Regions from separate parts of the Homo sapiens genome. Here all the other regions are reported to be linked to region 4. Evidence: microRNA targets listed by miRTarBase, many of them from high-throughput screens and not tested one by one. Region 4 holds a microRNA gene; each other region holds the end of a gene's coding sequence.
The links. Region 4 holds the annotated microRNA hsa-miR-6893-5p (CAGGCAGGUGUAGGGUGGAGC, at 2,457-2,477, opposite strand). A microRNA usually pairs through its seed, bases 2 to 8, with sites in the 3' UTR of a target mRNA and lowers its output. Matches are read on the target gene's strand: a 7mer-m8 pairs with bases 2 to 8, a 7mer-A1 pairs with bases 2 to 7 and ends in A, and an 8mer does both.

Region 1: the mRNA of CFL2 is a reported target of hsa-miR-6893-5p. Seed matches in the 3' UTR shown: 7mer-m8 at 4,021-4,027.
Region 2: miRTarBase lists RAB36 as a target of hsa-miR-6893-5p. Seed matches in the 3' UTR shown: 7mer-m8 at 2,038-2,044, 7mer-m8 at 2,356-2,362, 7mer-m8 at 2,847-2,853 and 7mer-m8 at 4,312-4,318.
Region 3: the mRNA of HOXC11 is a reported target of hsa-miR-6893-5p. Seed matches in the 3' UTR shown: 7mer-m8 at 1,020-1,026.
Region 5: miRTarBase lists SOX11 as a target of hsa-miR-6893-5p. Seed matches in the 3' UTR shown: 7mer-m8 at 2,300-2,306.
Region 6: the mRNA of FLCN is a reported target of hsa-miR-6893-5p. Seed matches in the 3' UTR shown: 8mer at 4,126-4,133 and 7mer-m8 at 3,180-3,186.

What each region holds. Positions count from the first base shown.
Region 1 is chr14:34,708,394-34,713,460 of GRCh38, forward strand. CFL2 (cofilin 2) reads right to left here. Exons shown (of 4, transcript NM_138638.5): 2 at 4,861-5,067; 3 at 4,667-4,743; 4 at 720-4,584. The coding sequence ends at 4,472. Among named protein-coding and RNA genes, the nearest start is that of CFL2, 3.7 kb to the right of the region's middle.
Region 2 is chr22:23,160,984-23,166,053 of GRCh38, forward strand. RAB36 (RAB36, member RAS oncogene family) reads left to right here. Exons shown (of 11, transcript NM_004914.5): 10 at 1-15; 11 at 517-4,680. The coding sequence ends at 581. It also overlaps a transcript of RSPH14 not described here. Among named protein-coding and RNA genes, the nearest start is that of BCR, 17 kb to the right of the region's middle.
Region 3 is chr12:53,974,880-53,979,949 of GRCh38, forward strand. It overlaps HOXC11 (homeobox C11), which reads left to right. Exons shown (of 2, transcript NM_014212.4): 2 at 302-2,764. The coding sequence ends at 534. HOTAIR (HOX transcript antisense RNA) reads right to left here and starts at 75. Exons shown (of 7, transcript NR_186241.1): 1 at 19-75. RefSeq lists enhancers at 1-67, 398-547, 4,037-4,551.
Region 4 is chr8:144,433,138-144,438,208 of GRCh38, forward strand. MIR6893 (microRNA 6893) reads right to left here and starts at 2,482; the gene lies at 2,414-2,482. It overlaps TONSL (tonsoku like, DNA repair protein), which reads right to left. Exons shown (of 26, transcript NM_013432.5): 14 at 3,890-3,962; 15 at 3,620-3,783; 16 at 3,421-3,544; 17 at 2,521-3,281; 18 at 2,337-2,413; 19 at 1,880-2,033; 20 at 1,674-1,752; 21 at 841-1,142; 22 at 451-622. It overlaps TONSL-AS1 (TONSL antisense RNA 1), which reads left to right and starts at 2,031. Exons shown (of 6, transcript NR_109770.1): 1 at 2,031-2,303; 2 at 3,614-3,858; 3 at 4,562-4,609.
Region 5 is chr2:5,693,156-5,698,215 of GRCh38, reverse strand. SOX11 (SRY-box transcription factor 11) reads right to left here. Exons shown (of 1, transcript NM_003108.4): 1 at 1-5,060. The coding sequence ends at 4,169. Among named protein-coding and RNA genes, the nearest start is that of SOX11, 3.3 kb to the right of the region's middle. RefSeq lists silencers at 1,060-1,229, 1,520-1,609.
Region 6 is chr17:17,209,509-17,214,579 of GRCh38, forward strand. It overlaps FLCN (folliculin), which reads right to left. Exons shown (of 14, transcript NM_144997.7): 14 at 2,704-4,348. The coding sequence ends at 4,147. Among named protein-coding and RNA genes, the nearest start is that of PLD6, 5.7 kb to the left of the region's middle.

The DNA of each region.
Region 1 (5,067 bases), not on the chromosome of region 4:
ACACTAAATAGGCTCAGCCCAGTGGTTCACACCTATAATCCCAGTGCTTTGGGAAGTTGAGATGGGTGGATTGCTTAAGGCCAGGAATTCAAGACTAGCCTAGACAACACAGTGAGACCCCGTCTCAACAATTTTTTTTTTTTTAAATTAGCTGGGCAGGCCGGGCATGGTGGCTCATGCCTGTAATCCCAGCACTTTGGGAGGCTGAGGCAGGCAGATCACCTGAGGTCAGGAGTTTGAGACCAGCCTGGCCAACATGGTGAAATCCCATCTGTATTAAAAATACAAAAATTAGCCAGGTGTGGTGGCATATGCCTGTAGTCCCAGCTATTCGGGAGGCTGAGGCAGGAGAATTGCTTGAACCCAGGAGGCAGAGGTTGCAGTGAGCCGAGATCACACCACCGCCCTCCAGCGTGGGTGATACAGTGAGACTTTGTCTCAAAAAAAAAAAAAAAAAAAAAATTAGCTGGGCATGGTGGTGTATGTCTATAATCCCAGCTGCTCAGGAGCTTGAGGTGGGAGGATCACTTGAGCCCAGGAGTTCAAGGTTATATTGAGCTATGATTGTGCCACTGCACAGCAGCCTGGGCAATAGAGTGAAACCCTGTCCAAAAAAGAAGAAAAAAATGTGTGTGTATGTGTGTATATATACATATATATATACATATATATATGTACACACACGGAAGTTACAAAAATAGAGGTTCAATGATCTGTAATACATCTTTTAACAAAAACATTTAATATTTATCTACTTACATACAGTAATTAAGAATGAATAGTTTAAACAGATTATTGCATTTACATAGCATTTTCCTGTTTTCAAAAACCATTTCCATATTTAGTACTCAGGAAACATGGTAAACAGATATTACCGTTCCCATACTATGGGTTAAAAAACTGAGATTTAGAGATTTAATTTGCCAAATTGCATTATGAGAGGAAATTTAAGTGGAGGGATGATTCCTCTACTTCTACATGGAAATAAAGCAATTAGTTGGATGTTCCAGAGCAAAAGAAAAGCCTCAGACTTCTTTATGGGCTGAAAGGAGACAGAACATCCATAAACTCATGCTGTCTTCAAAAGCAGTATTTGAGCTTTTGAAGTGGTGGCTCATGCATGCAATCCTAGCACTTTTGGGAGGCGGAGGTCAGAGGACAGCTTGAGCCCAGGAGTTGGAGATCAGCCTAGGCAACATGGCCAAACTCAGTCTCTACAAAAGAGATACAAAAAAAAAAAAAAAAAAAATTAGGCATGGTGGTGCATGCCTGTAGTCCCAGCTACTTGGGAGGCTGAGGTGGGAGGATCATCTGAGCTGGGAAGGTTGAGTTTGAAGTGAGCTGAAATTTTGACACTGCACTCCAGCCTGGGCAACAGAGTGAGACCCTGTCTCAAAAAAAAAAAAAAAAAAAGGCAACATTTACTGGGACCTGCCTGCCCACCTCTAGTAGCTTTAATACTATTCATAAAAAAATGAACATTCACGTTGTTTTGCATCTCCACCTACTATTAAATGTGCAAGCAAAAACAGGACCTATGAAGAGCAAAATGAGACTGTTTTTTCTGAGTGGCAAACCTAAGAGTCTTCTCAACCTCTTGATGATTTACCATTGTTGAGATTATTCCTTAACAAGAAAACACTTTTAAAAGAATTTCCTCCCAAAGCTTATTTGCCAGATTCCATAAATTAGCTGCTACAAATGTTCTGTATCAGAGAAACTCAAACCCAGTAAGAGGCTTCTCTTCCAATGTACGAAAAAGGCACATTTCAATACACAATGCTGGCCACACTATTTTAGATAATGATGGAAAACAACAGCTGATAGCCAGTTTGGGACACATGCCAACTGTTCCCATTTGTCTGAAAATGCTAAAATTAATTGCTGTAACACTCAGTTTTTAAAGAAAATTGTTATTGATAAATGAGAAAGTATTACCAACTAAAATCCTGAAAAACAGAATAAAGATAATGATGCCTCTTTGATCTGAAATACCAGTTTTTAAACTTTTAATGTTCTGAAGTATAAGTAAACACATCTCAACAGCTTTACATATTTTCATATATTTTATTTTTTAAACTCTCATAACTTTGCAAGCTAGCAGTAAAATATTGCCTTCAATATTTTACTAATTAGCACCGTATACCTTTTAAAGCTAACTGGAACATTGATTCATTATAAATGATTGTAAAATAAAATGATCATTTCAAATGCCAAATTAATCTCAAATAACAAGTGAACTATTATTAATTTTATCTCTTTTTTTGGCTCTACGCACAAAGATGTATTTCAAAGATGAACTTAATTATATTAGTATCAGTTTTGTCAATCTAGCAAATCAAAGTATCACAGTTTAAAGCAATATTTAATCTCTGAAATTACTAGAGGCATACAAGAAAGTTAAGGAATCAGCTACAAAAACAAAAGATACTACATAACTGATTTATAGTCCCTTATTTTTTAAAAGAATGAGGAAATAACTCAATGAAAAATTCCATGGTGCCAAGTATCAGTTACACATATGGTTAAGTATACGTCAGTATTCTCTGTTTTGCTTATCAGAGTTTGGCCTTACCAAAAACCATCGAAATGTCCAGGATAACTCACAGGGACAGCTGGAAGCCTGAAATAAAATTGCTCAGTGCAAAAAGATCCCAAACCATTCATATAATTTTAAATGGAAGCCTAGACATTTAATCCCTATTTTTAATGTTCACATCTGAAAAATCTTTCAAAAATATGGAAAAAATCTAATTATACTAAAATTACTTCCACACATTCAAAAAAAATTTTTAAGGGATATTTTCTTTCCTGTTTTCTGCTAAAAGCATTCCTCTGAGCTATGGGGTTAAGTTCTGAGCCACGACTGACTGCTTACTAGCATGCCTGTTTTGCATACCAGTAGAATCAAGTCCAGTTTTGCCATTTGTGGATAACTATGACAAGATACAAAAGCATGTGTTTGCCATAAATAGCCCTGGCTAACAGCAAACCGCTCACACTGAGCAGATCAAATTCTCTATAAGGAGCACAGTCTGGACCATAGCCAAATCCCACTACTAATGTTTAAGACTGCTATTATCAATTCCTATTCCAATTCAATTTGCAAAATATATTCAGAAATAGTAGGTGAAATGACTGTTCCGAAACATCAGAAGTATCATTAAACTTTTAAAGGACATTTTACAAATTATTTTCATTACGACCAAATAAGCAATAAGAGCTTCCTGCTTCTACTATACAACTACTTAGAAATGTAAATGTGAATAAAAAAATAACTATGCTAATTTATCCAGAGAACAAATCAGATATTGAAAAGTATTTATGCCAAAGTGCAAAAAATAATTTCTGATCTTCATATTAACACATAGGAAATAAATACACTAATGTTTATAAAAGTACCATTCTTTAACAATGGTATTTTATATTAGTTGGCCTTAAGATAGAATACTTTTTAAACCAAATAGATCCAACAAATCTGGAAAATATCACACATGAATGCTGTACAAAAAAAATTCTCAAATGACCAGTGCAGAGATTAGTAATAGCTGTTTTTACCCTAGAAGTTGTTTCACATAACATTTTGCAAAATTTCCAAGGAAAACAAGGCAACGTTCTGTAATATGCCACAATTTTTATTGCAACGTGGCCATTTTTGTGAGGGTGGGGAGTTTGATCTCAAAACAATGTTCCATTTAAGGCTCTTTTATACAGAAATTGCCATCATGACTGATATTCAAAATATCTTTAGTGTTGCAGGACTCACATGGTAAACATAAAACTCCTACACTTATTCAGTAGTGTACACTCAATGGAAAACAAAAAGGCATTAATAACAGCTATTTCTTTTAAGAAGATATGCAGGTAACAGGAATGAACACTGAGGTACTAGGATAAGTTGATGACACAGTTAACAAAACTTAATTGGCATTCCTTTTAGGATATTAAACTTATTACAAAAAGTGCTTTTAATGCATAGTGTTATATCCGTGCTGCCATATCACTAAAATAGGCTTGCCAAGGCAGGTGAGGTGTATGAATGCTCAAGCCTCACAGAACTGCAATCAAGTGCCAACTATAAATAATACTGAAAAAAGTTGACCATCTGACCAGTGGATAATACTTTCAAGGCATTCAATTAGCTTATCCTTTGCAGTATTCTAAGCTATTCACATTGACGATCACATACATTGTAGTGCTTGCTGCAAGGGAGGCATATAACCAGTTGTTTTGGCTAAAATATGACAGGAAGGCATTCCTTGGGTTCTATATAAAAGTAACAGTATTCAACAGTCTAATGGCAATCACTGATAGGCTGCTTAAATAAATGATATTTCCTTCATTCATTGTGTTGGAAGGGCCCAGTGGAAAGGGGGAAATACAACAAAAAACCAAAACCTAATACTATTCCAATGGACTGAGCTGGAGAAATGGAAGCTCCTTAAGATCCAGATGGCACTTGACTGTCATTTTATAATGGTTTTCCTTCAAGTGAAACTACTACATTGCCTCCCAATTTCTCTCCAAGTGTCGAACGGTCCTTAATATCATCCAAGCCATTTACTTGCCACTCATGTTTAATACCTAAAAAGAAAAAACATTATCCTATTACTTTATTATAATTAATAAAGAATAATTTCTCTGCCCCAAATATTCAAGTTTGTACCTGTAAATTTCTTTTTAATGGCATCTTTAGAGCTAGCATAAATCATCTTGCTTTTTAAAGGTGCACTTTCAGGAGCCCTACAGAAAAAAAAAAAATTATTGAATCCCATTTATAAGAAAAACAAAGGTAAGACTGACTATGATAATAATAATCCTTGCATTTTAAAAGTACTTTTTTCTTTTGTTTTTACACACCAGAATATAAATACTAGGTCTTCTTTCTTAGACTCTTTTGTTTCGTATGTGGCATCGTACAAAGCATATCGGCAATCATTCAGAGGTAGCAACTTCACAAAAGATGTGTAGGGGTCCTCTACAGTATCACCAATGTCACCCACCAAGATCTGCTTTGCTTCCTCTACAATTATTTGTCTTTTGTCATCGCTTAAACAGAAGAGAACT
Region 2 (5,070 bases), not on the chromosome of region 4:
ATGGAGACCTAATCCGTGAGTATAGGTGTGACTGGGTTGGGCTGGGGAGTAGGCTGGAGGCCTAAAATCCACATGCGCCATCCTCGTCACCTGAGGCCTTGCCATTTCCTGAACTTGTGGCCCTCTCCTGTCCTTTGACCCTCCTCTCAGGGTGTCACTGCAGCCTCAGGCCTGTAGCCCCTCTGATTCCACCTGCCAGGTCAGACACCCTCCCTAGCCCTCCCTGTTCTCCTGACACATGGACCTCATGGGCATCCATGAGGTCCTCATAGCCCAGGCTGGGCGTCCCAGGCTCTGCAGATGTGTCCTGGCCCCGGCTCTCCCAGTCTGCACCTTTGCCCTCTCTGTTCCAGTGCCTGGAAGGCCCTCTCTTGGCTTGTGTCAGGCCATTCAGGCCTTGAACAGCAGGCCCAGAAGCTTCAGCTCACAGCTCTGACTGTCAGGGCCGGCATCCCCTGCCCAGTGTCAGCTACAGGATTCCTGGTTGATGCTAAATTACTTCTCCCCTCCTTACAGAAATGGAAGGGAGTCCGCCCGAGACCCAGGAGAGCAAGAGGCCCTCCAGCCTGGGCTGCTGCTAACTGGGGCCTGCGTGGAAGGCCTCCGCTCCCTGCACACACACGGACAGGAATTTCCGTGACTGTGGTGTGGAGACTGGAGCCCAAGCTCTGCAGCGTGTCGCCCTCAAGCTGTAGGCCCATGTTCCAGTCCCTCCACCCACCCACCGGGCTCAGCTCCAGGGCACAGTCACTTGTCCGTTGCAGGTTGGGCACTAGAAAAGGCCCCCACTGGCTGCCTGGGAGCCCCACACCACCGGGCCAGTGCAGGCACTGTGGTGATCCCATAAAAGGCCAGTCCATTTGCAGGGTCATCAGACAGTCACCTTTGGCCTCAAGAGGCCTCAGAACTGCAAACTCCTGCGTCGGTCTATACTACTCGGCCATGGCCCACATCAGCAGTCAACCCTGCACTCTTTCCCAGCGATCTTGGATGTGTCCCCAGGATCCGTCACAGTGTTCCAGGCAACCTGGACTTGTCAAAGTCAGCACCTGAAGGAGAGGCCACCTGCCATTCCCCCTGGGAGTTTTCTGTTGTCAGCAGGACTTATGGTTCTGGGTCTCAGAGCTTCAGGCCTCACTGTCCTTCTGCCACGGATGCTCAAGGTTCCTGGGCAGACCAGCACCTCTGGAGGACAATGGACAAAATGTCTCTTAGACCTGTTCTGGCTGAAGGGCTATCTCTGGCACCTCTGAGATCCCTAGGTCCTGCCCTCCTGGTCCGTGGGCCAGGATGTGCAGAACAACCACTCAGGCCTTTCTGGCCCACCTGGACAGTGCATTTACCTGTGTGCTGCGGGAGGCAGACTGCACAGCTGTCCTAGGGTAACTCACTCTGCAGCCCTTGAACATGGCACTGCCCTCCTCTGGCACTCATGCTGGGCCTGTGCCCACTGCTGCCTCTCCATCCCTCTCTCATTGGCCTATACATCTCTTAGGACCTTTGTAATGGTGTCCATGCACCTTTAGAGGACTTCAGAGGCCCTGCCAAGTCTAGCATGTTCCTGTCTCCAACACCGCCTCCTGCACATGCAGAGCAGACAGAAATACCCCACACATTCCCCAGCCTCTCTGCCCAGTATGCTCATCCACAGGGTTTTCTCACTGCTATGAACCAGCCCCACAGCCCCAGGCCCCTGTCACCTGGCTATGCCCACTCATCCCACCCGTCTCGTGCTGTTGCTTCCCGTAGATGGCGAGCACCTTGCAGGCAGCCTTCTGATCAGTACTGCTCTCCTAGGGCCTGGCACACTGCAGCTGCCCTGTAAATGTTCAGCTCAGCGATTGCCAAATACCAGTTAGGGAAGAACACTGGCATCTTTTTCTATTCATTCCCCCTTCAACATATTTTTTGTAGTTTTTTATATAAATGACTTTTTTTTTTTTTTGAGATGGAGTTTCACCCTTGTTGCCCAGGCTGGAGTGCAATGGCGTAATCTCGGCTCAGTGCAACCTCTGCCTCCCAGGTTGAAGCGATTCTCCTGCCTCAGCCTCCCAAGTAGCTGGGATTACAGGCATGCACCACCATGCCTGGCTAATTTTGTATTTTTAGTAGAGATGGGGTTTCTCCATGTTGGTCAGGCTGCTCTCGGACTCCTGATCTCAGGTGACCTGCCCACCTCGGCCTCCCGAAGTGCTGGGATTACAAGGGTGAGCCACCATGCCCGGCCATAAATGATTTTATTCATTTTTATGTTTTCTTTTGGGCGGCGGGATGGAGTCTCTGTCACCCAGGCTGGCGTGCAATGGCACGATCTTGGCTCACTGCAAGCTTCCCCTTCCGGGTTCATGCCATTCTCCTGCCTCAGCCTCCCGAGTAGCTGGGACTACAGGCACGTGTGACCATGCCGGGCTAATTTTTTATATTTTTAGTAGAGAGAGGTTTCACCGTGTTAGCCAGGATGGTCTCGATGATCTGACCTCGTGATCTGCCCGCCTCGGCCTCCCAAAGTGCTGGGATTACAGGCCTGAGCCACCGCGTCCGGCCTCCATAAATGACTTTTAAAGGGGTTGTATGTTTAGTGTGAACAAAGACAGTACAAAGCATATAAAATACAAGGTGAAAGCCCCCCCCCCGCCACATTAGCTGCGCCCCTGAAGTGTCTCCAGCAGAAGAGATGGATGAATGGAAGGACACACAGATGGACAGAGAGCAGGAAAGACTGTTAGCTCTGCTAACAGTCAGGACTATTCCTTCTGGACTCTGTGCCTTTGCCTGCACAGCTAGTGTTGATGGCTTGTTTGTTGTTTTCACCAGAGTGAGCTCCTTCTGGACATACTGCCTGGCAGCCTGCCTTCCTAGGGAGCTGGCGCCAAGGCCTCTCCCTGATGGCACACAAGGAGCCTCCTTCCTGTAGCAGCGCCCAGTTTTCATGTGGATGGATTGTAGTTCATTTGACCCTCCCCATCCGCGGGCCATCCGGCTTGTGTCCAGCTTTTAGCTCTTGCCAATGGTGCTGCAGTGGCCATTCTTGTAGTTATAGCTTTGCGTACTCAGGAAGGCCCTTCTCCCGACTGCGGCCCCCAGCCTGGTCCACTAAATGCAGCCTGTGGTCGGGCAGACAGCATTGGGGTCCATTAGGAAGACCAGGTTTGCTGGGCATAAGCTTCACAGGACGGGAGAACCTGCCCATGGTGGACTGTCGTTCTCCACAGCTCCCTTCCCTTGCCCCTTCGGGCCTCCAGGATATGTTTGCGGGGGTGGGTGTGGTGTCCAGCTGTTACCAGCTTCTGAGCTAGAGCTGTACTGCCTCACGTACACCCCCACCTCTGTAAATGGTCCTTGATTAAATCGTCCTCATATTACCTCCTGCAATGTGCCAGCTGATTCCCACACACCCTGACTGACATAGTTGTGGCCTCTCGAACTTTGATATTTGGCCTGGGAGGACAGAAGAGTAAGGTCGCCACGGAAACGCAAGGGGCTCAGTTGTCCCCCCACCCCAAGTTGATGCAGCATCTTCTCGGTCAGAATTGCTTCAGGGTGGTTTGCGCACCCTCACTTTGATGATTTAATGAAGACATTTCCTTCTTTCCCAGCATCGGGCAGTAAGTTTCCTGGGCAGAGGCACTTTCTGTTGGTCTGGTCTTGTGGGCCCAGGCAAGCAGCCCCCTGCAGCCAAGGTGCGGCAATGACCACAGTGACCGCGTCCAAGTGCTGCCGAAACGCCTTTTTCCTCTTCCCTGTTTCCCTGGACCCTTTCCTGCTCTCTGTCCATCTGTGTGTCCTTCCGTTCACCTGTCTCTTCTGCTGGAGACACGTACCTGAAGCAGGTCCTCTCCTGTCACTTCCTGGCTCCCCAGGGCTAGGTCCCAGGGTGCTCTCGCTCTGGCTTTCGAGGCTCCTCACCACCCAGCCCACCCCACCCCCACAGGCCCCTGTGCTCCAGTTTCATCCCTGGTCACAATGCAGTCTGCAGATGCCAGACCCCTCTTCTGTGCCCAACGGCTGGGACACCCCTACTCCCAGAGAGGCCTCTGTGGACACCCCCACAGCTCTCGCAGCACTTGATACCTTGAGTGTGATTGGTCACATCTGGGCTTTCTCCCCCACCCATCTGTGGAACCCCAAGAGCCAGGACAGTGACCTCATCACCTCTACTGTCTCCCCTAGCACCTCTGGGAGGAAGGGCCCACAGTAGGTGCTCAATAGATGTGTAAAGAAGGCAGGGAAGCAAGAAGGTTGCTCAAACAAGACCATGTTCCCAGCAGACAGATTGCACTCTGACCCAGATGCCACCACACGAAACTTACACCTGCCTGGGGAACAATCCTGTGCTTGGCTCTCCTTGGTGGCCAGGGACAGTTGTGCCTCATCCCTCACTTGCAAACCCCAGTCCTGTCTGACCCAGAGACCCTCACAGGGCATCAGCCAGTGAAGGCGGTTTGGGGCTGGAGGATATGTTCTGATCTTGGGAAGAGCTTGGTAGGAGCCAGCCACAGAAAGTTTCAGGGCAGAACTGAACAGGTCTCGGGAAGGACACTTCATGCCAGCTAGAGAGGCTCTGGGCACAGGAAAGAATTGGACTTCGGGCAGAAAAATGTTTGTGCTATTTAGTACTATGTAACAAATCACTCCAAAACTTCATTGCTTAAAGCAACAAGCATGTATTATTTCTCATGATTCTATGATTTGACCAGCTATTCTTCCGCTCCCTGCTTGGTAGCTGGGCCACTAGGATGACTCTCCCAGAGTCCAAAATGGCCTCCCTCATATGAGTGGCAGGTGGTGTGGCTCTACCTGAATGCTTGGCAGGGCCTTGCCACATGGCAGCTTGGGCTTCCTCACAGTGTGGTGGCTGGTTTCTAAAAAGGACTGTTTCCAGGCTGGGCACAGTGGCTCATGCCTGTAATCCCAGCACTTTGGGAGGCCAAGGCGGGCGGATCACGAGGTCAGGAGATAGAGACCATCCTGGCTAACATGGTGAAACCCTGTCTCTACTAAAAATACAAAAAATTAGCCAGGCATGGTGGCACGCACCTGTAGTCCCAGCTACTTGGGAGGCTGAGGCAG
Region 3 (5,070 bases), not on the chromosome of region 4:
GAGGGGACGCACGTGTACCTGGAGGGCTTTCCTTCTGTCCCAGACCCTGTCAGCCGCGGCTCTCGCCTGAGAACTGGGGACGGGGTGGCGCAGTGGCGGGGGGGTGGGGACCCGCTAGACCTGGCAGGGGGTCGAGGCTTGCCCGGGTGCTGCGGCTGCAGGAGAGCCAGCCGCCTGGCGGGAGGGCTGCCCGCGGTGGGCTAGGAGAAGGGCCGCTGAGCGCTCAGCGGGCTGGGGTCGCCCGGGTCTCACGTGTCTCTCTCCCCCCTCTCCTCGCACTTGCCCCCTCCCCTCCCTCCAGACGCCCCCCGCACCCGCAAGAAGCGCTGCCCTTATTCGAAATTCCAGATCCGGGAACTGGAGCGAGAGTTTTTCTTCAACGTGTATATCAACAAAGAGAAGCGGCTGCAGCTGTCCCGGATGCTGAACCTGACGGACCGACAAGTGAAAATTTGGTTTCAGAACAGAAGGATGAAAGAAAAGAAACTGAGCAGAGACCGGCTGCAGTATTTCTCGGGAAATCCTCTGCTGTAACCTGCAGACCGGGCCCTTTTGGGGGCGGGGGGAGGGGAAAATTATTTTATTTTATTTTTATTTTTTATTTTCTAACTCGTCTTCTTTCCGCCGGTGGAAAACTGGACTGTGGCCAGGGCTGGCCCCCACCGCTGTGGCCGGCACTCCATTCCGGAACCTCCTGGACCCTCTATCTGACTCTCGCTGTGGGACAGGGACCGGGCCTGGAAAGGGGGTGAAGGGAAGTGTCTGATGCACGGCGAGTGAACACCGTTGGCGCCGAGGCCAAGACTTTGATTTAAAAGAAAACACACCTCGGCGACAATGTCTTGCTGCTCGGATTAGGTGGGGGAGGGGCGACAGTAGTGAGCGCCTGAGCCGAACAATCCTCGAACTAAAAGCCTTCCCTTGCCCATGTGAAAAGATCCGCTAAGACAGCATGTCTGCCAGCGGAAACTTCTCGAGCTCCCCCCTCTACCCCGCCCCACCTTGCAGCTAAATGTGATCCTGCCTTGCTGTGAAATTTCTGTACCTTCAACCTGGTGTTAGGTGTGCAAAGTCCGTGTCCTACCTCCGTCTTCGCCAAGGCCCCGCCCGAGCCTAGTTGTTCTCCCCCTGAATGTGTAGAACCTTCCTTTGAAATTTCTTAATCGGTGCATTGAGGTTTCCACATCTTTTTCCAAGCAGTGCCCCACTTCATGGATTTATAGCTATAGTCTATGCAGTCGTTACCTCTTTTTTTTTTTTTTTTAAGAAAATTGAAGATTGGGGTGGTGGAGGCAGTAGGGAGATGGGATTGGGCACCTCCCCCGTGCTGGGGCCTGGATTTTTGTAAATAAATTTCCCAAGCGTTTCTTTCCACCTGGAGGGAAAGGGGGGGACGCCCCCAGTGAGATTCAAATCACGCATCTCTACTCCTCTGCGTGAGTGCGTGTGTACATGTGCACTCCCCACCCTGCTCCCTTCCCAGAGGGATTGCTGTGAAATTTTTTTGGTGGCAAATAAAGATAAATTTCATTCTGTTCAATATTATGATTTTATTTGACCCTTTTATTAACCCCTCTCCTCTTAAAATCCTCCATGCTCCCATGGCAGCGGCGGAGGAGGAGGAGGCAGGCAGGCAGAGCCCAGCGGGTGAGGACAGGCAGGCAGAGGTGAGATAGGCCGGTGCTAGCCGGCCTGGAGCTCCTCTCCGCTGGCAGGGCCAAGAGTATGGCCGTAGTCTCCTCACATTCTCAAGCTGAGGACATTCCATAGCTACTCTGAAGCTCTCCTTTCTCACGTGCAGCTCGAGCTGTGTCCAAACGCCCAGCAACGGCTTTCTGTTTAAGTACACGTTTGTTGTGGAGTTAATTGTAACCATCATCGAATTTAAATTTATAGGAATTTTTTTGGCTCCACCGCCCTTCTGCCAGATGTCTCCGTCTGTCGCAGTTAAATGTGTAGTGTGGAGGTTAGGGCTTTTTTTTTTTTTTCTCTAGGAGAAATCTGTATTGGAATTTTTATACACTGTTTTTAAGGAAGGAGGGGACAGAAGGAGAAACCAGCCCCCTCCCTCTCCTCTCCACAGCTCCTGGGGGTGGGAAGGTGGGGCCTGGCTGCTTTCCCTCTGGCACAAATGGCCAGGCTCTTCCAGACACAACAAGACGCCTATACTGGGGCCACCCTGATGTTTATACATTGGGTGTCCCACAGTAGAAAGCCCCAGAGGTTTGTTTTGTAGGGGTTGGCACTGGGGATGGAGATGACCTGCGGGGACAGTCACCATACCCATCTATATTTGCTGCATGTTTCTTCTGTATAAAGATAATCATGGCCCTTGCAGTGCTTTCAGTGAGGGCACTTCGTTGGTCTCTGTTTCAAATTCGTTATTTGGGGGCAGAGGTTCAGGACAACTCATCTCATCTTTCCCTCCTCTTTCTGTCTTTGTATAATTCAAAGAAAATATTTTTGTCAATACAATTCTGTTGGATGAAAGGAAAAAGCATCATGACTATCAAATCTAGGTTCTGTCATTTTTGATGGTAGGAATCCCTGCAGCTTAGGTATCTAAATTTCTAATTTGTAAACGTGGGTCGGGTCGTGAGACAAGATTTGCAAACTAGGGTGTATATGCAGCCCACAATTCCCTCATGTGCCCACACACAAACGTTTTATTTAACTCGGTGTGCCTATGGGTGCACATAAGAAGGAATATTATTTATATGCTTTTGTCTGTTGCATGGAGTAAACCTGACCACATACACATCTAGAGCTTGTGTCTCTGTGGTGTGTAACCATTGGCAGTGTTTGTTGAGTGTGGGCAGGAATGCAACTGAGGGGCCTCTGTACATTTTTGTGTGTGTATGTGTGTGTGACACTTCTCTAGGTATGATGTTTATCCACTAGCCACATTAGGAAATATTAGCCTGCTGGTGATGTTTCCTGTGAAATTAGGATAGAGGAAACTCTATAAGGTGAACCTATTTATAAAGCAAAATATTAGCCTCCAAATGCCTGATTTTGGAGAAAAATATTTAAAACCCGCAGGTAACACTTTCTCTGCAATGTGGAGCCCAGAAATGTCCTCAGCTCCAAAAGAGAGTTCTGGTGGATGAGAGGAGAAGGTCATCATGAAAGAAAAACAAAGGCTTCTGTGACCCAAGCCAGGAATCTGCCAGTCCTTGGTGACCCTCTAAAAAGGAGGAAAAAGGGTTTTTTGGCCCCCAAACAAACCCACCTTCCGTCTCCCAAGGTGTCCAACCCCCCTTGCAGGTCAGGGGCACTCTGGGCTCAACCTCTTGGGGTAATCCCCTCTAGCCGCAGCACTGCCCGGGAACAAAAGATCCTCGTCTAGACGCTGCCATAAAGCACCCCCTCACGTTTCTAAACCCAGTTTCATTTCGACCTTAACGACCCAGTCTGGCCTGTATTAGAAACCACTTCCGCCCTAAATAGTAAACAAACCTGTAGTGGAGGGTCTTGGCTCTCCCAACACACTCAGACCCCCACCTCCTCAGCCCGTTGCCCCACATTTTTCCTCTTTTCTCCAGCCTTTCTCAGCTCCCAGCACCCCAGCCCCTTTCCTCCCCGCCGCGCCCACCCCACCCCCCCGCCCCAGTAAATAAACCTGAGGCCGAGTTCAAAGTTTCCCGGAGCTAAGGAGGAATGCTGGTTGTAAAAATCCAAGTTTATAGTGCACGTGGGAGTTTACAAGGGTATTAAGTGGTGTGGGCTGAGAGAGCACTCTGGGCCCCTCCCCCTTCCACCATGGGCTTTGGGGTGCAGGAGGAATCAAGGGCACTCGAAATGAGAAATGGGTTTAGGAGTAGCCTTGAGTTTGGGGTTTCTTTGTCACTTAGACTCTTAGGTGGCTGAGGAATGGCGATGCAAGGGCCCCTTGTAAGAAGACTCGAAACCCCTGCCAAGCACCTCTGAGAGAAAACTCCCTGGCTCTAGTTGTCCCAGATGGAAAGATTGGGGAGCCCTGTTCTGGGGGAGCAAAAGGTGCAAACCAGGTGTCTGAAAGGTGAACAGAGTTGGGAATACCTAGAGCCAGTTCTCAACCAGAAGGGGAGAAACTACCTTGGGCTAATTTCTCGAGTGGGCTGAGAGCAGAAAGGGCTCTTCTCTTAAGAGTAAAGAAGAACTTTGAACTTCAAGGGAGTCAAGGGCACCACCCCTTCGCTTTCCCCGCCTCTCTCAGGAATCCGTAGGGCAATTGTTTCTGGGCCAGTATTCCCTGAAGGGGGGAGCTACTGGGGTTTTCTGGTGCCCCAGGGTTGGATAATGCTGTTTGCTAACCCCTCCCTACTGAGAGCCCGCCAGAACCAGTGCACGCGACTGCACTCTTTATTATTCATATAAACCTTTGGAAAAGGCAACGCCCAGGAAGTTTTTATAACTTTGTTTGGCATAAAAATTTTACAAGATTCCCCATCCCTTAAAAAAAAAAAAGTAAGTTTTGGTCTTGCCATAGGATGAAATCACAGGTCTTTGAAAGGCAGGGGAGAGAGGGGCTCTGAGGGGTGGCAGTGCAGGGAAGGGAGTGTATGGAGCTGCCTTTCTCTGTCTAAGGCAAAAAGGCTTGAAGATCTGAGTCAATCCTTCCTAAAGCCCATCTTGGACTCAGCTTTGGAGCCTCTTTGGACAGAGTCCTGTCCACTCTGCTCTTGCACCTTTACAAACTCTAAAAGTTTGGACAATATCAGCATGACAAGACCTTCCCCCATCACACCCTCTTGTTCTCCTGTAGGCACTACTCTCTCTCTCTCCCTCTCTCTCCACACACACACACACACACACACACACACACACACACACACACACATCTCTCTGCACCGCACCCCTCCAACCCACTGCACAAAGCAAAGACCCATAACCTTGACTCAGACTGCTGATTTGGGAGGGTCTCTGCACACATAGCCCTGCCTTCCTGCCTGCCGCCTGTGAAGTCGACAATGGGTTTGAAGAAAGAATCCAAAATACCAGGAAACTCCTGCCCAGAGGTTGCAGTGGTTGCAGGACCAAAGGAGACAGAGGGCCCAGCAGGGCTGCAGTCCAGGAGCAGAGAACAAA
Region 4 (5,071 bases):
CGGCGCGATCTCGGCTCACTGCAAGCTCCGCTTCCCGGGTTCATGCCATTCTCCTGCCTCAGCCTCCTGCGTAGCTGGGACTACAGGCACCGGCCACCACGCCCAGCTAATTGTATTTTTAATAGAGACGGCGTTTCACCGTGTTAGCCAGGATGGTCTCGATATCCTGACCTCGTGATCTGCCCGCCTTGGCCTCCCAAAGTGCTGGGATTACAGGCGTGAGCCACTGCGCCCGGCCTAGACGCTTTTTTCTTAAGGGATGGGGTCTCACTATGTGGGCCAGGCTTTCCTGGAACTCTTGGCTCAAGCGATACTCCCGCCTCAGCCTCTCAAGTAGCTGGGACCACAGGTGTTGCCCCTGTGTGCCCAGCCTGGGCCCCCTCTGAAAGTCCTGGAAACCCTCAATGCCCCAGGGCTAGGGAGTGGACAGGGAGTGCCTGGTCAGCTCACCTTGGAAAGCACTACCCAGTGCTGTCTGGTGGCTCAGAAAGAAGCTGGGGCCGAAGCCACACGCCTGCAGGCGCAGGGTGCTGAGTAAGGGGCAGGCGTGCAGGAGGGAGGCCAGGGACTGGCCACAGCCGTCCCCCAGGGGGTTCATGCTTAAGTCCAGCTCCTCCAAACTCTGTGGAAGACACAGGCTGGCAGTGAGCCCCCAGCAGTCCCACGGACAGGGTCCCCCTTGGGGCTTGGCTTGGCAGTCTCTTCCCCACCTTGCCTGGCATAGCCTATTACAGCCGGGCACTGGCTGGCTCTCCCAACTACCCTAGACCACCCAGGGACCTGCAGAATGGGAACCCCAACTCCCCGCTGTTGAGGGCCTGCTGCTCTCTGTGCCTATACCTGCAAGGTGGCTTGGCCTGGGAGCCCCATGGCAAGCTGGCGCAGGCCTTCGGGACCCAGGTGATTGGAGGAGAGGTCAAGGAGGGCCAGGCTGGGCATGGTGCCCAGGGCAGCCACCAGCTCAGCCACACACTTGTCCCCCAGCCGGTTCCCTGCCAGGCGCAGCTCCCGGAGTGCTGTGTGCAGCTTGAGGGCCCGCAGCAGGGGTGTAAGCTGGGCCTGGTCCAGGGCCAGGGAGCAGGCGCTGAACGAGAGGCCCAAGCCCTGGAGCTCCACGGCCTGCAGCACCTGTTGGTGCTCCCCTGCGGGAGGGATGTGATGTCACCAGGGTAAGGCCGGCCCTTTCTGCCCTCTGAATCCCAGAGGGCAAACCAGGCAGCCCCTTTTCAACAGCCCCAGGGGTCACCCACCAGACTTGCTGTAGAGCCCACTCGCACATGCCTGTGGGTCTAGCACTGTGAGGCCCTGGGGGCCGGGGTGGGTCTGCAGCACCCTGAGCTCCACCAGTCACTGCCAGATTCCACACCCCCCGGGACAAGCTTTCTGGGAAGCTTCCCCAGCAGCTCCCAGCCCATGCCAGGCCCTCCTCCTTGGGTTTGACTTTCCAGGCTTTCGGCTGCTTTTTGCCATCTCCCTGTCAGCAGATCATGGGGGCTGAGGGCTGTCCTCTCCCTTCCACCCACACATCCAAGTGCAGGACACAGCACCCACCAGGCTGGGGGAGGTGCACCCCAAAACACCCGAGGCCCAGGAATGAACCGGGCTGGTGGAGCCTGTGTGCCCAACCCCCTTGTACGACCTCACCCAGAAACTGCAGCTCTCCTGGCCCTCACCTTGCCCCAGGCTCTGGCAGGCCCTGCGGTAGCGGTCAGTCAACGGGGGCAGGTCCCACGAAGTCACCTCAGCCAACACCTGGAAGGCACCGTCATGAGCCACCTGGGGGCTCCCCCGGCTCACCTCATCATTGCTCTGCAGCCATGAGCCACCCGGGGGCTCCCGGTGCCTGAGGCCCTGGCTCCCCCTCCGCTCTGCGGCTCACCTCGTCATTGCTCTGCAGCACATCAGGGATGAGGTCCTGTGGGGCCAGCAGGGCCCCCTCTTTCCGTAGGGTGAGCCTGGGCAGCAGCCCGCAGGTCTGGTAGTAGCGCTGGGCCGCCTGCTCGGCCAGCCAGGCCACAGAGTGGGTGTCACTGCTGCAGGGACAGAGGCGCTGCTGCTGCTGCCTGCACACAGCCGGGGTAATGCCCCAGGGACCCGCCATCCCTGCCCAGGGCCAGAAGCCCCCTCAGCTGCTTCTCCCATTCCCAGGTAGCCGGCCCCTCCTCTCCCTGCAGCCCAGCACACCACCAGCCCCTCTGCTATTCCTGGGGGCCACAGGATCCTCCTGGAACACACCAGGGAGCCCTCGTCACACGCCCCACCCTGACATGCAAACACGAGCACCCTGGCATGGAGCTGCACAGGTGGGCTGCGGGGTAGGGCAGGCGATGCCTCACCTGTGTGGGACAGGGATGAGGAAGAGATGATCCTGAACTTGAACTCGAACCCGGATGGGAGGGGGCGGGGCCGGACCCTGGCAGGTGAAGGCAGCAGGGCTGAGTCAGGAGCCACAGTGGGCTCCACCCTACACCTGCCTGCCCGGAGTGGGGAGAGGGCTCTGCTCCAGGTCTGCATACCCACCAAGGGCTGGCCTGCCGCAGAGCTGTCCCCACTGGGCTCTGAGACCCTGGGGGTGCTGGGGCTCCCTGGAGGTTCTGAAGCCAGGCTGCTGGGCCCTGCGTTAACTGGCGCACTGCAACTCTGCATGCAGGTCAGGCGGACCTGCTTGGCTCGGGCACGGGGCCTGCTCTCCTCACTGTCCGACCCAGAGGTACTACTGGGCCTGCGGTTGTCTCCAGTGCCCCGGGGGCGGGGCCGGCGGCTGCGGGTCAGGGGCATGTCCAGCTCCAGCCAGTCCCCGGCCAGGCACTCCTCCTCCGGGATGAGCGCTGCCTGGGGGGCAAGGGCTTTGCTGTGGCCCCGCGGTGGGCCAGGCCCCAGCCGGCTCTGAGCACTGCCCACACCCCGGATGGCTGCCTGGTAGGCTGCCCGGCTGGTGCTGGCTGTGGCTGCTTCCCTGTTGCTGGCGGGGCCAGGCGTCCAGGCTGCCACCCGTTGTGCTGTGGCCGAGCACCGAGGCCTCTTCTGGGACGGCCGTGCGGGGCCTGCGCTGTCCTCGCCTTCTGAGCTGCTGCTGCTGCTGGCTGGCCCATGCCTGCTCCTCCGAGGCCTGGCCATGGCTGGTGCCGCCTGCCCTGGGGAGACCCTGACATGGGCCTGAGAGGCCTCTGGGAGTCTAGTGCTATTAGAGGGGGGTTCTGGGCAGGGGCTCAAAGGAGGAGAGGTCTCGGGGTCAAACAGAAGGCTGCTTGGGGTGTGGAAGGCCTGGGAGCTGTGGGGATCTGTGGGAGAGAGAATGCGTGTTGAGGCAGGGGCCCGGCACCTCCCGCTCCACCTGTGATGGAGCATCTCCCGAAATCAGGGCCCGGGGACTCTCAGCGTAGGCACAGCAACCCCAGGGACAAGGGACGCCCTGCTTGCCTTGGCCCGAGGCAGCCGCCTGGAGCAGCATCTCCATGGCCCTGGCCTTCTGCCGCGTCTCCAGGTCCAGGTCCCTGCGGTACAGCTTCACCCACTGCTGCAGCGTCTCCAGCGGGCTGAGGCCCTGTGTGGCATCAGTTGAGCAGGGGCACAGCAGCCCCCATAACCTCGCCCTTGCCCTCTGCCCCACCAGGCTCACCTTTCGAGTGCGGAGGGTGACGGACGCCCCCCGTTCAAGCAGCAGCTCAGCCACCTCGAAGTGGCCACAGTTGAGGGCATCGTGGAGGGGGGTGATGCCTTCGCAGCCCTGGCCACCTGGGTCGTCCACTGCGGCCCCGTGGTCCAGCAGGAAGCGGACAATTTCTGCAGACCAGGAGACGTAAGCCCAGCTCCCGATGCCCCGCCAGGACTGACTCTTCGCCCCACGTGTCCACCAAGGTGCGCCAGGCTCCTTCTGTCCCTTGCTCACCTAGATGCCCGTAGTTGCAGGCCTCGTGCAGAGGTGTCCAGCCACAGTAGTCCCGAGGGTTAAGGGGGTGGCCCTGTGACCAAGGACAGGAAGGAGCCTGGCCCTGTGTACCTCACAGCCTGGCCCCAGCCCCGTGAGCTCTGCAGCCTAAGCTGAGCCCAGGGCCTCAGTCTTAGAGCCCAGAGCAAGTCCGTGGCCCTGCCCTCTCCTCCTCCGGCCTAGGTGTCACCAGTGAAGGACATGCTTCCCCCTGAGACAGGTGGACCAGCCACAGCATATCCTCCGCCTCTGTGCCTGCCCGGTCCCCTTGTGGGGAGACAGTGCACCTGGTCGCAGGGGCATGAGGCAGGCGGGGCGGGAAGGTGCCCAGATCTCAGCCCATGGGCTAGCCCCCATCCTGGCCAGGCTGACCAACTTAGCTGTAACACAGATGCATACCACACAGCAGGTACCCCATTTTTTTTTTGAGACCAGCCAGGCTGGTCTCAAGCTCCTGACCTCGTGATCTGCCCACCTTGGCCTCCCAAAGTGCTGGGATTACAGGTATGAACCACCGCGCCCAGCCTGGGCACCCCATTTTTTTGTGTTTTTTTTTGAGACAGAGTCTCGCTCTGTCACCCAGGCTGGAGTGCAGCGGCGCAATCTCATCTCACCGCAACCTCCGCCTCCCAGGTTCAAGCGATTCTCCTGCCTCAGCCTCCCGAGTAGCTGGGACTACAGGTATGTGCCACCATACCCAGCTAATATTTTTGTATTTTTAGTAGAGACAGGGTTTCACCATGTTAGCCAGACTGGTCTCAAACTCCTGACCTCAGGCAATCCGCCCGCCTCAGCCTCCCAAAGTGCTAGGATTATAGACATAAGCCACTGTACCCGGCCTGTGGCTTTTCTTCTGAGACAGGGTCTTGCTCTGTCACACAGGTTGGAGTGCAGTGGCAAGATCATGGCTCACTGCAGCCTCCACCTCCTAGGCTCAAGCAACCCTCCCACCTCAACCTCCAAAGCAGCTGAGACTACAGGCACACGCCATCACATCCACCTAATTTTTAAATTTCTTGGAGACAAGGTCTTGCCAGGGTGCCCAGGCTGGTCTCGAACTCCTGGGCTCATGTGATCTGCCTGCCTTGGCATCCCAAAGTGCTGGGATTACAGGCATAAGCCACCCCGTGCAGCCTCCGCTTT
Region 5 (5,060 bases), not on the chromosome of region 4:
TTAGACACTCAATAAAGAATTCATTAAGATGATTCTCACAACGCACTCATCAAAACAGCCTTAAATATTGTTAAAAAGCGCATTGAAGCGCCTGTCCTGAGTTCTAACAGGTTTTAAATTTAGATTGCCAAACAATTACTTTTATTTTTGTATCAAGTTAGGCCACATGGCTTTAAAAAAAAAAAATCTTGACTATCTCTTCCCATTCTGAAGCCAAATTATTACTTTACTAATTTACTTAAAGTTTCCACCTCACCACAGAAAATGTCCAAGATTCATCTATGATTAAAACAGAAAAGACATGCCAAGTTTTCAGGCTTTCAAAATACATAGATCAGCCTATCAATGGGTTTACGTTGCCAACAAGTTTCGGAACTGCAGCAGAGGGCTGCCACATAAAATCACCAGCACGGAGCACGTGTCAATTGTAAACCGCTGGTTCAATTATCCGTGGCTAAAATAAATGTACCACCAATGGCTGCATTAGTCTACATGTTGAGGGGGTGTGGGGTAAGGTAAACAACTCCAGAAATCCAGTTCTATATTGAGAACCTGGTTAACGCCATCAGCCCCTTCTTTTCCCAAATGTACTACTGAAATCTGATGGTTTATCGAAAGGAAAAAGCCACAGAAAAGAAACCTGTCCATCTGCAGCAAAAGCTTGCTGGCTTCGCATCCCAGGGGTGGGGGCTGGGGAGGAGGCTCGCCCAGAGCGGGAGGCTGGGGGGCGGGTGAGAGGCCCGAGTTCTCAGTCGGGGGGCCGGGGGAGGGGTGGTGGTAAGATCGAGTAAGGCAAAAGCAAGCGGGAGGGGAGGCGGGAAGGGCGCCGGGGCCCCTCTGGCCTAGCAGCTGCAGTTACTGTGCGGACGCTTCCATTCGGTCTCGCCAAATCTCAGTAAAAATGGAAGGCCAAACCTCGGTCAATCATCTCAGTAGGTGAAAGAGTCGTGGTGATTTTGCAGTGAGTTTCAATCAGCCACTGAAAACCTCCTCCGCTGCGGGCGCCGCAGCTCGGGAGGCTGAACTCCGGGGCTGGCACGCTGGGCCCCGAGCGGCCTCCCAGCCTCCCTCCTCCCAGACCCAGCAGAAAAGAGGCGGCGGATGCTCGGAAGGGGGGCGGGAGCCCGGGGCGCGCGTGCCCGGCCGCGATCGCCTGCTCGGGCCTGCCGCGAGGGCTCGGGGACACAGGCCGGTCAGGAAAAATGGTGGGGAGCGAGGGGGTGTGGACAGGCAAACGGGGTTCAGCGAGCGGGGAGCGCCAGCGGGATGGGTCGCGCCCGCGCCGCCGCCGGAGCCCCCAGGAGGCTCCCGGAGAACAATCAAGATGCGGATCCACCTTCGTTGCGGCGGCCCCGGGGAGCTGATTCCGGGGCAGCCCCTGAGCCGGCGCGCGGGGAGGGCGTGGTGAGGGCCCGGGGTGCGCGGGTGCGGCAGCCGCCTGCTCCCCGGGTTTGCTTTCTTCCTCTCACCCCGCAGCCCCGAGGCTTCCCTCCCCGGCCCGCGGGCCCGGGAAGCCAGCGCTGGTGTCTCCGCGCGCCTCAAGGGCCCGCGGCGGGGCGCGCCCAGGAGCACGCGGTGGCGAGGCAAGAAGAGCCAGGCACGGGGACCCGGAGCGTCAGGGCTCTGCCTTGCGCGTCCCGGACTACCGCCCGGGTGCCCTCTGCCACCCCCTGCTCCCCACGCCCTCACCAGTGGTTCGGCCCTCCCAGGCACCCCGGAGACCGCGACTCGGATCGCACAGAGGCCATGCCATGTTCCTCGGGGTGCCCTCGGCCGGCCTGCCGCGTCTTCCCCCGACTCCCGCCTCCCTCCCGCTCGTAGCCTGGGTCCCGCCGCGCCCCGCGCCCCCTGCGGCCCCGCACCGTCCTCCTTCCCTCCGACAGCTCCACGGCCCCGGGGGACAGAAGGAAACAGACACCGACCACTTCTCTCCTTTCCTCTTCCCCTTCCCCCTTCACCGCTAGAGGTCAAACACTGCGGCGGCGTTCTCCGCCAACAACCACCTCTGAGCACACGCGAAGATGCAGCGTTAAAAATAAAGAACAGAAAAAATTCAAATCTGGAAACGGCTGTCCCCACCCTTTGAGAGGCGGGGATAGAAGTGCCCCGAGCGCTCGCTGCCAAAGGCGGCTGTCACCGCGAGGCTCAGCGGGGACGCGGCCCGCCGCAGAGAACACACAAGCCCCAGCGAGCAGGACCCCGACCAAGGGAGCTGGCAACCCAGGCCCCTCCATCCGCCCCTCCCCGGCCAGCTCCCGAGCCTCCGCGCAGCCCGCCCGCCAGGATGGGTGGGGAGAAGAGGCAGGGAGTGGAGGAGGAGGTGAGAAAGGAAATGGGGAGCTGGAGATGGAAAGGGAGGGCAGAGAGAAAGAACACCCTTCCCCTGTCTTTCACAACTAGCGGAAGAGGAAAAAGAAATCAGCCTGCTAATTGAACACTTTTCAGCCTAACCCCCTAAATGTAGAATTCTCTCCTGCCACCTCCCCTCATCCGCGCACACAACAGCCTCACCACCGAATGCTCTGCGACAACAGGACCTCCAGTTTGACTTCCATAGAGACTATTGGCGATGCGAGTTTCTATCAGTTCCAGCTGATTTATTAAAATTGTCAAGATACAGACTTCCAGCACAAAAAAAAAAAAAAAAAAACAGGCAATGATGTCGACAGTGCATTGAGTCTGCTTTGCCACCATTTGCTACAAAATATGCAGATGGTCTGTACTTTATTTAGATTATATTGCACAAAATGAGAAACTTTTTAAACTATGTGCCTTTTTTTTTTCTTTTTTGCTAAAAATCGAGAATCCAGTTTCAAACCTTCCATCTGGGGCCCCATCCACATCACAGCGTATGAGATACATAAAGTCCTACTATAGTACAGTACATATACAATCTTTAAACTAAGATAACAGCTCTGAGGTCTATATCACCATTTTCAATAAATCTTTACCTACAAATATTGAACAAATCTCTACTATAGCTGTACAAAAAAAAGTTTGCTTTTTTTTTTTAAACCACAAGGCCTTTAGATGCAAGGATTATTTTAAAATTTTAATCCTTTTTAAACCAGGACATAACGTACCAACATACTTGCATGCTAAAAAACAGAGGAAAAAAAAGAAATCAAAAGGGAAGAAGTGCCTGAAAGTCTTACTGAAAAAACACAGCAAGAATGTTCCCTTTTCACTGTACAAAAATACGCCTGAAAATATATTAATTTTTAAAAAAGACTGAGGTCTGTTATGTATCAAAAATGTTTCAATACCTTTTGTACTGAGGTCTAGGCTGTCTGGTATTCAATCAAGGAGGTATAAGGGAACAAGTTACAAAAAAAAAGTTGGCAAGTAGAAATCACATTTGTAAAACCATAAACAATTTGATCTGAAAAGTAAACTCTGATCTTAAGTCAGTTCACAGTTTTTTTTTTTGTAAGCGTTTGTACAGTCTGCATTTTTTCAAGCTCCCTGCAGTTTTGTTAAGAATCGGATGCATAGAAGACATCAGTTTTCTCCCTCCAAAAAAAAAAAAAAAAAAAAAAAAAAAAAAAATTAAATTAACAAAAGTTGCAATGGTCCCTTTTTTTGTTAAAAAAAAATCACCAGTTCTTTAAGTTCTCTTAAGAAAAAAAAATATCTCCACCAACTCCCTAGAGTAACAGTTGTGCTGCCAAAAGGGTCCTCTGCAGACGTCTTCCAGACTTCAAAGACCGACAAGCTTCAAACAGCGCCTTCCGGAGCGGGTCCTACCTCCCCTCCCCCGCCCCGCCCCCTCTGCCTTTGTTGCAATCACGAATTTCAGGAAAAAGAAATAGTAATTACAAAAACACATTTTTTGGGAAAATAATCACAACTCCAGACTAGGTATGCAACTACCTTGAGACACGATAAAGGAAGGGAGGGGGGACAAAAAAAGGACAGGAAAAATGTTTAAAAACTACTCATTTCACTTTAACTCCACCAAAATTTTCATCATGTTTTCCAATTTCTTTGCGTCACGACATCTTATCAATATCATCAGCATCTTCTTCTCTCCCCTCCACCCTACCACCGCCACCATCAACACCACCATCATCATCATCATTATCATCATCATCATCACCACTACAACTTCCTCCCAAGGAACCCAGCTCTGCACCCTCCGAGAGAAAGAGCGAGCAGCGGGCGCCTTTCAATATGTGAACACCAGGTCGGAGAAGTTCGCCTCCAGCCAGTCCCCCGCGATCATCTCGCTCAGCTCCGGCGTGCAGTAGTCGGGGAACTCGAAGTGGGAGCCCAGGCTGCCCTCGCTGAACGAATCCAAATCCTTATCCACCAGCGACAGGGACAGGTTCCCGGCCGCCGCGCCGCCCCCCAGCTGCTGCTCGCTGGCGCTGTGCGCGCTTTGAGAGAAATTCAAGCTCAGGTCGAACATCAGGTCGTCGGCGTCCTCGCCGCTGCTGCCGCTGCTGCTGCCGCTGCTGCTGGACGAGGAGGTGGACACCGAGCGCGAGGACGCGGGCGACAGCGCGGGCTGCGCGAGCGGCGGCGGGTGCTGCTTGGTGATGTTCTTGAAGCTGTAGTAGAGGCGGCTGCCGCCCCCGGCGCCCGAGGTCGCGCCGGCCCGCACCTCGTCGTAGAGGCTCGCTCCCTCGGGGGACTCCGCCGAGCTGCTCAGCGTAGGGCTGGCGGGCACTTTGGCGACGTTGTAGCGTCTCAGCAGCTGCGACGGCTGCTGCCCCGGCGGCTGCAGGAGCTGCTGGTGCGGTGGTTCCTCGTCCTCCTCGTCCGGCTCCTGTTTGATCTGCAGCTGCAGCTCGTCGTCGTCGTCGTCGTCGTCGTCGTCCTCATCCAGAAACACGCACTTGACCGTCTTGCCCGCGCCGCCGCCGCCCGAGCCGCTCACGCGCAGGCTGCCCAGCACGTAGTCGTCGCCCGCGCCCCCGTAGTCCCCGGACTGGGCCGCCTTGCCCGCGCCCGCCTTGGCGCCCGCGGCCGCGGGGGCCTTGAGCTTGCCGCATTTCTTGCTGGAGCCCTTGGAGGTCTTGGCACCGCCCGCGCCTCCGCCCGCGCTCCCGCCGCCG
Region 6 (5,071 bases), not on the chromosome of region 4:
CCTGCCTCAGCCTCCCAAGTAGCTGGGACTACAGGTGCCCGCCACCACGCCCAGCTAATTTTTCGTATTTTTAGTAGAGATGGGGTTTCACTATGTTAGCCAGGATGGTCTCGATCTCCTGACCTCACTATCTGCCCTCCTCGGCCTCCCAAAGTGCTGGGATTACAGGCGTGAGCCACCGTGCCCGGCCTAGTTTTTTATTCATTTATTTTTCAGATGGAGTCTTGCTCTGTCAGCAGTGACGTGATCTTGGCTCACGGCAACCTCCGTCTCCCAGATTCAAGCAATTCTCCTGCCTCAGCCTCCAGAGTAGCTGGGATTACAGGCACCCACCACCACGCCCGGCTAATTTTTGTATGTTTAGTGGAGACGGGGTTTCACCATGTTGGCCAGGCTGGTCTCGAACACCTCACATCAGGTGATCCGCCCACCTTGGCCTCCCAAAGTGCTGGGATTACAGGTGTGAGCCACCGTGCCTGGCCGTTTGTGTTTATTTTTTATTTTTTGAGACAGAGTCTCGCTTTGCTGCCCAGACAGGAGTGCCATGGGGCCATCTCAGCTCACTGCAACCTCCACCTCCCTGGTTCAAGCGATTCTCCTGCCTCAGCCTCCTGAGCAGCTGGGATTACAGGTGCCTGACACCACGCCTAGCTAATTTTTGTACTTTTAGTAGAGATGGGAGTTCACCATGTTGGCCAGGCTGGTCTCGAACACCTGACCTCAGGTGATCCGCCCACCTTGGCCTCCCAAAGTGCTGGGATTACAGGTGTGAGCCACAGTGCCTGGCTATAATAACCATTTTAATATGTGTGTGTATGTCATTAACATCATGTCGTATACCTTAAATATATACAATTTATTTTTTAAAAGCTTATACAAACTATATTATCAGATAAGGGGTTAATTTCCACAATATATAAGAGCTCAAGTGATTCTCCTGCCTCAGCCTCCTGAGTAGCTGGGACTACAGGCGTACACCACCAGCCTGGCTAATTTTTTTTTTTGTATTTTTAGTAGAGACGGGGTTTCACCATGTTGGCCAGGCTGGTATCAAACTCCTGGGCTCAGGTGATCCTCCTGCCTCGGCCTCCCAAAGTGCTGGGATTACAGGCGTGAGCCACCATGCCCGGCCCTGAGTGTAAGTATCTTGAATGTAAAATCAGGAAACCCTTGACTGCCTTCAAACACATGGGGAAGGTTCAAGATCTGGAACTTGTTTTCTGTCTCTTCCATTTTGTGAAAAGCTACAAAATCAGGAACCCCTATTCCCTCACAAGGACAGCAGAGTCTGGCCTGGTCTTGGGCTGGCATAGGTTCAGCTCAGCCTCCTGCTCTTCTGCACTCATGACCAATAGGAAAAATCTTCAAGAACTGCATGCCTGTGGGGAGAAAAAGCCCACAGCTGCCTAGAAACACCAGTTGGCAGCTGGGTGCGGTGGCTCACCCCTCTAATTCCAGCACTTTAGGAGGCCGAGGCGGGCGGATCACGAGGTCAGGAGTTCGAGACCAGTCTGGCCAACATGATGAAACCCCATCTCTACTAAAAATACAAAAATTAGCCGGGTGTGGTGGCATGTACCTGTAATCCCAGTTACTCGGGAGGCTGAGGCTGAATTGCTTGAACCAGGGAGTCGGAGCTTGCAGTGAGCCGAGATCACACCACTGCACTACAGCCTGGCAACGGAGCAAGACTCTGTCTCAAAAAACAAAAACAAAAACAAAACCACCAGTCGGCATAGGGCCTTGCCTGCCCCCTCGCCAGCAAGCTCTGTTAGACATGGGAAATCCAGGTCACACATGCCCCTGAAGTGAATGCAGAGCTAACTTACACTGGGCTCCTACTTGCCAAGTGGATTCAGCCACTAGACTGGCAGACAACTGGCAAAAACTGAGCATAGAACCACGTTCCCAGGAATGCCATGCACGAGAGAAAGACAGGAATCTGTACCCGAAGCCGGGGAGGACAGTGGGTGGTCATCTCTCCCTTGACCCACATTGGCCAGGGGGTCCCCTCCCACTCGAGGTAGATGACTAAACCGTGAACCTGCTGTTTTAGGGATTGCCACGGTCACCCAGGGTGATTCCAGCCATCTTCCTCTCAGATGGACATGTCTTTTAAATATCATCATTATTAAGGGATGAGCCATTTCTAATGCTGAACAAAATGAAAAGCACATGGGCATAGGTACTCAACAGATGTCCTTGGGATAAATGAGTGTTTGCTTCTCTCCAACACCAACTCCAACGACTAACTTGGAGAAGATTGTCTACGATCATTATAGCAGCTTAACTGTGCGAATTGGCCACTCACTGGTATTTTGTTTTGTTTTTTGAGATGGAGTCTCACTCTGTTGCCCAGGCTGGAGTGCAGTGGTGTGATCTTGGCTCACTGCAACCTCTGCCTCCCGGGTTCAAGTGATTCTCCTGCCTCAGCTTCCTGAGTAGCTGGGACTACAGGCATCTGTCACCATGCCTGGCTAATTTTTTATATTTTTAGTACAGACAGGGTTTCACCGTATTAGCCAGGATGGTGTCGATCTCCTGACCTCGTGATCCGCCTGCCTCAGCCTCCCAAAGTGCTGAGATTACAGGCATGAGCCACTGCGCCCGGCTGACTCACTGGTATTTTTTAACCATAGTATTTCCTGTGCCTGAGCGCAAATAAATAGTAGGCATCAAACCAATAAAACCATGTAGTAACAATTTACAAAAATACATCTTTATTGTGTTCCAATGTTGTTGCATTATACAGATACCTAGTTATATAAACTTGGTCTTCATGTTAAATATAAACACAAAAAAACTAGAAACAAATCAGCAAAACCATCAGAAAATCCCTCTGAGCCATGAATCCTTATTAAAAATGTATAGTGGGGGGTACCTGTAGCTGTATGTTGAAGCAGGAGGACTGCTTGAACTCAGGAGTTCAAGACCAGCCTGGACGACATAGCAAGATGCCATCTCTTTAAAAAAAAAAAAAAAAAAAAAAAAAAGGGCCAGGCACAGTGGCTCACGCTTGTAATCCCAGCACTTTGGGAGGCTGAGGTGGGTGGATCACCTGAGGTCAGGAGTTTGAGACCAGCCCGGCCAACACGGTGAAACCCCGTCTCTACTAAAAAATACAAAAATTAGCTGGGCATAGTGGCGGGCACCTGTAGTTCCAGCTACTCTGGAGGCTGAGGCAGGAGAATTGCTTGAACCCAGGAGGCAGAGGTTGCAGTGAGCCAAGATCGTGCCATTGCACTCCAGCCTGGGCAACAAGAGTGAAACTCCCTCTCAAAAAAAAAAGTACAGTGGGATGATGAAATTGTCTTCAATCACCACACTCCGAAAATAGTTAACTGTAACCAAACGTAAATGTTGAAAGCAGCAATAAAGACAAAAGCGATACAGAATAAAAGCATGGCGGGGCTCACCATATCCAGGGGATTGGGCAAGTCAGATGCTTGCCGACCCCTCAGCAACCTGTCTTGTGCAAAAATGATCAGGGACTCCATCATTAAGCCCCAGGTTACCTTCACCAGCACCTGCAGGGGAACACCCCAGAAGACGAGCCCCATGGCTTCAGAACACACATTTCAGAGGACCAAAAGATGAGGAAGAGATCCACTTCACTCCCCAAAGTCTCTTGCGGAGCCCTAACTCAATCACTCAGTGACCAAGAGCTGGCAATGTACTGAATATTCACAACTGCAGCAAAAGGTACCCTCAAACATAAGGCCCAGAAACTCTTGCTGAATTTCAAAGTAGAAACGCTTGAATGTTAACCTCGGGAGCAGACATGTTATTGCGACTGCATACTGAGTCGGACCTGTTTCTCCTGCGGGTTTTGAGTCTAAGTCCACAAGGGGCCTGGGAGGCAAGCTGTCCTCCTAGTCGTCTCTCCAAGGAGTTTGAACACAGAGAGAGCCCATCATCCCTCCGCCTTTCATTGCCATCTTCAGCGATTCCAACGGCTGGAGGGAGAGTCTGGGAAGCACACAGGCCCCAAACCTGACAGGGCCGAGCCCAGCCCTGATGGTTTCCCTTCCTTGCTGGGACACAGCTCCTTCCAGCAGTTGAGAAACTCAAGGGACAGTCCCTCTCACGGGGCTGGAGGATCCTGTGGACAGCCATCCCTGTCTTTAGGCAGGTGTGTGTGACGGGTCAGTTCCGAGACTCCGAGGCTGTGGGGCTGCGGACCGTGGACATGAGGTGTGACTTGTAGGTCTTGCTCAGGCCAGTCATCCAGAACTTCAGCAGCTTGACATTGTCCTCCTCGGACGCACCCAGGATGCTCAGCAGCTTCTGTGTGTCCTCTTTGGGTCGACTGTCCACCTTGGTGAACTTAAAAAGCACCTTCACTTTGCTGAAGAAAACCAAAACAAAACACTCAGACACCACAGCACAATCCCTCGAGCCCTGGTCACGGGGCCAACCAGGGGTGACACGGCTTTGGCACCAGCAGGAGCTGTGCAGGCAGAGCTGGAATCCACACCCTTGGGGCAGCAGGCTTGGCCCCTGAACTGCTGAAAGGAGCTGTGTCCCAGCAAGGAAGGGAAGCTGTCGGGGCTGGGCTCGGCCCTCTGTCGGGTATGGGTATGGGGCCTGTGCGCTTCCCACACCCTCCCTCAAGCTGTTGTCAAGACGCCAAGAAGAAAGAAAAACCTTCCTTAAACTCGTGGAAGACACTGGTTGCTCCTAAGCTTCACTGCATGATTTTAAATCAGGACAATGTTTGATTAATAAATTTGACCCAAAAAATTACCAAGAATCGAGGCAGGAGGAAATAAAGTAAATTTGCTTACAAAAAAAAAAACCCGGGGGGCCAGGTGCAGTGGCTCACGCCTGTAATCCCAGCACTTTGGGAGGCCAAGGTGGGCGGATCACGAAGTCAGGAGTTCAAGACCAGCCTGGCCAACATGCTAAAACCCTGTCTCTACTAAAAATACAAATATTAGCCAGGCATGGTGGTGGGTGCCTGTAATCCCAGCTACTCCAGAGGCTGAGGCAGAAGAATCGCTTGAACCCGGGAGGCGGAGGTTGTGGTGAGCCAAGATCATGCCATTGCACTCCAGCCTGGGCAACAAGA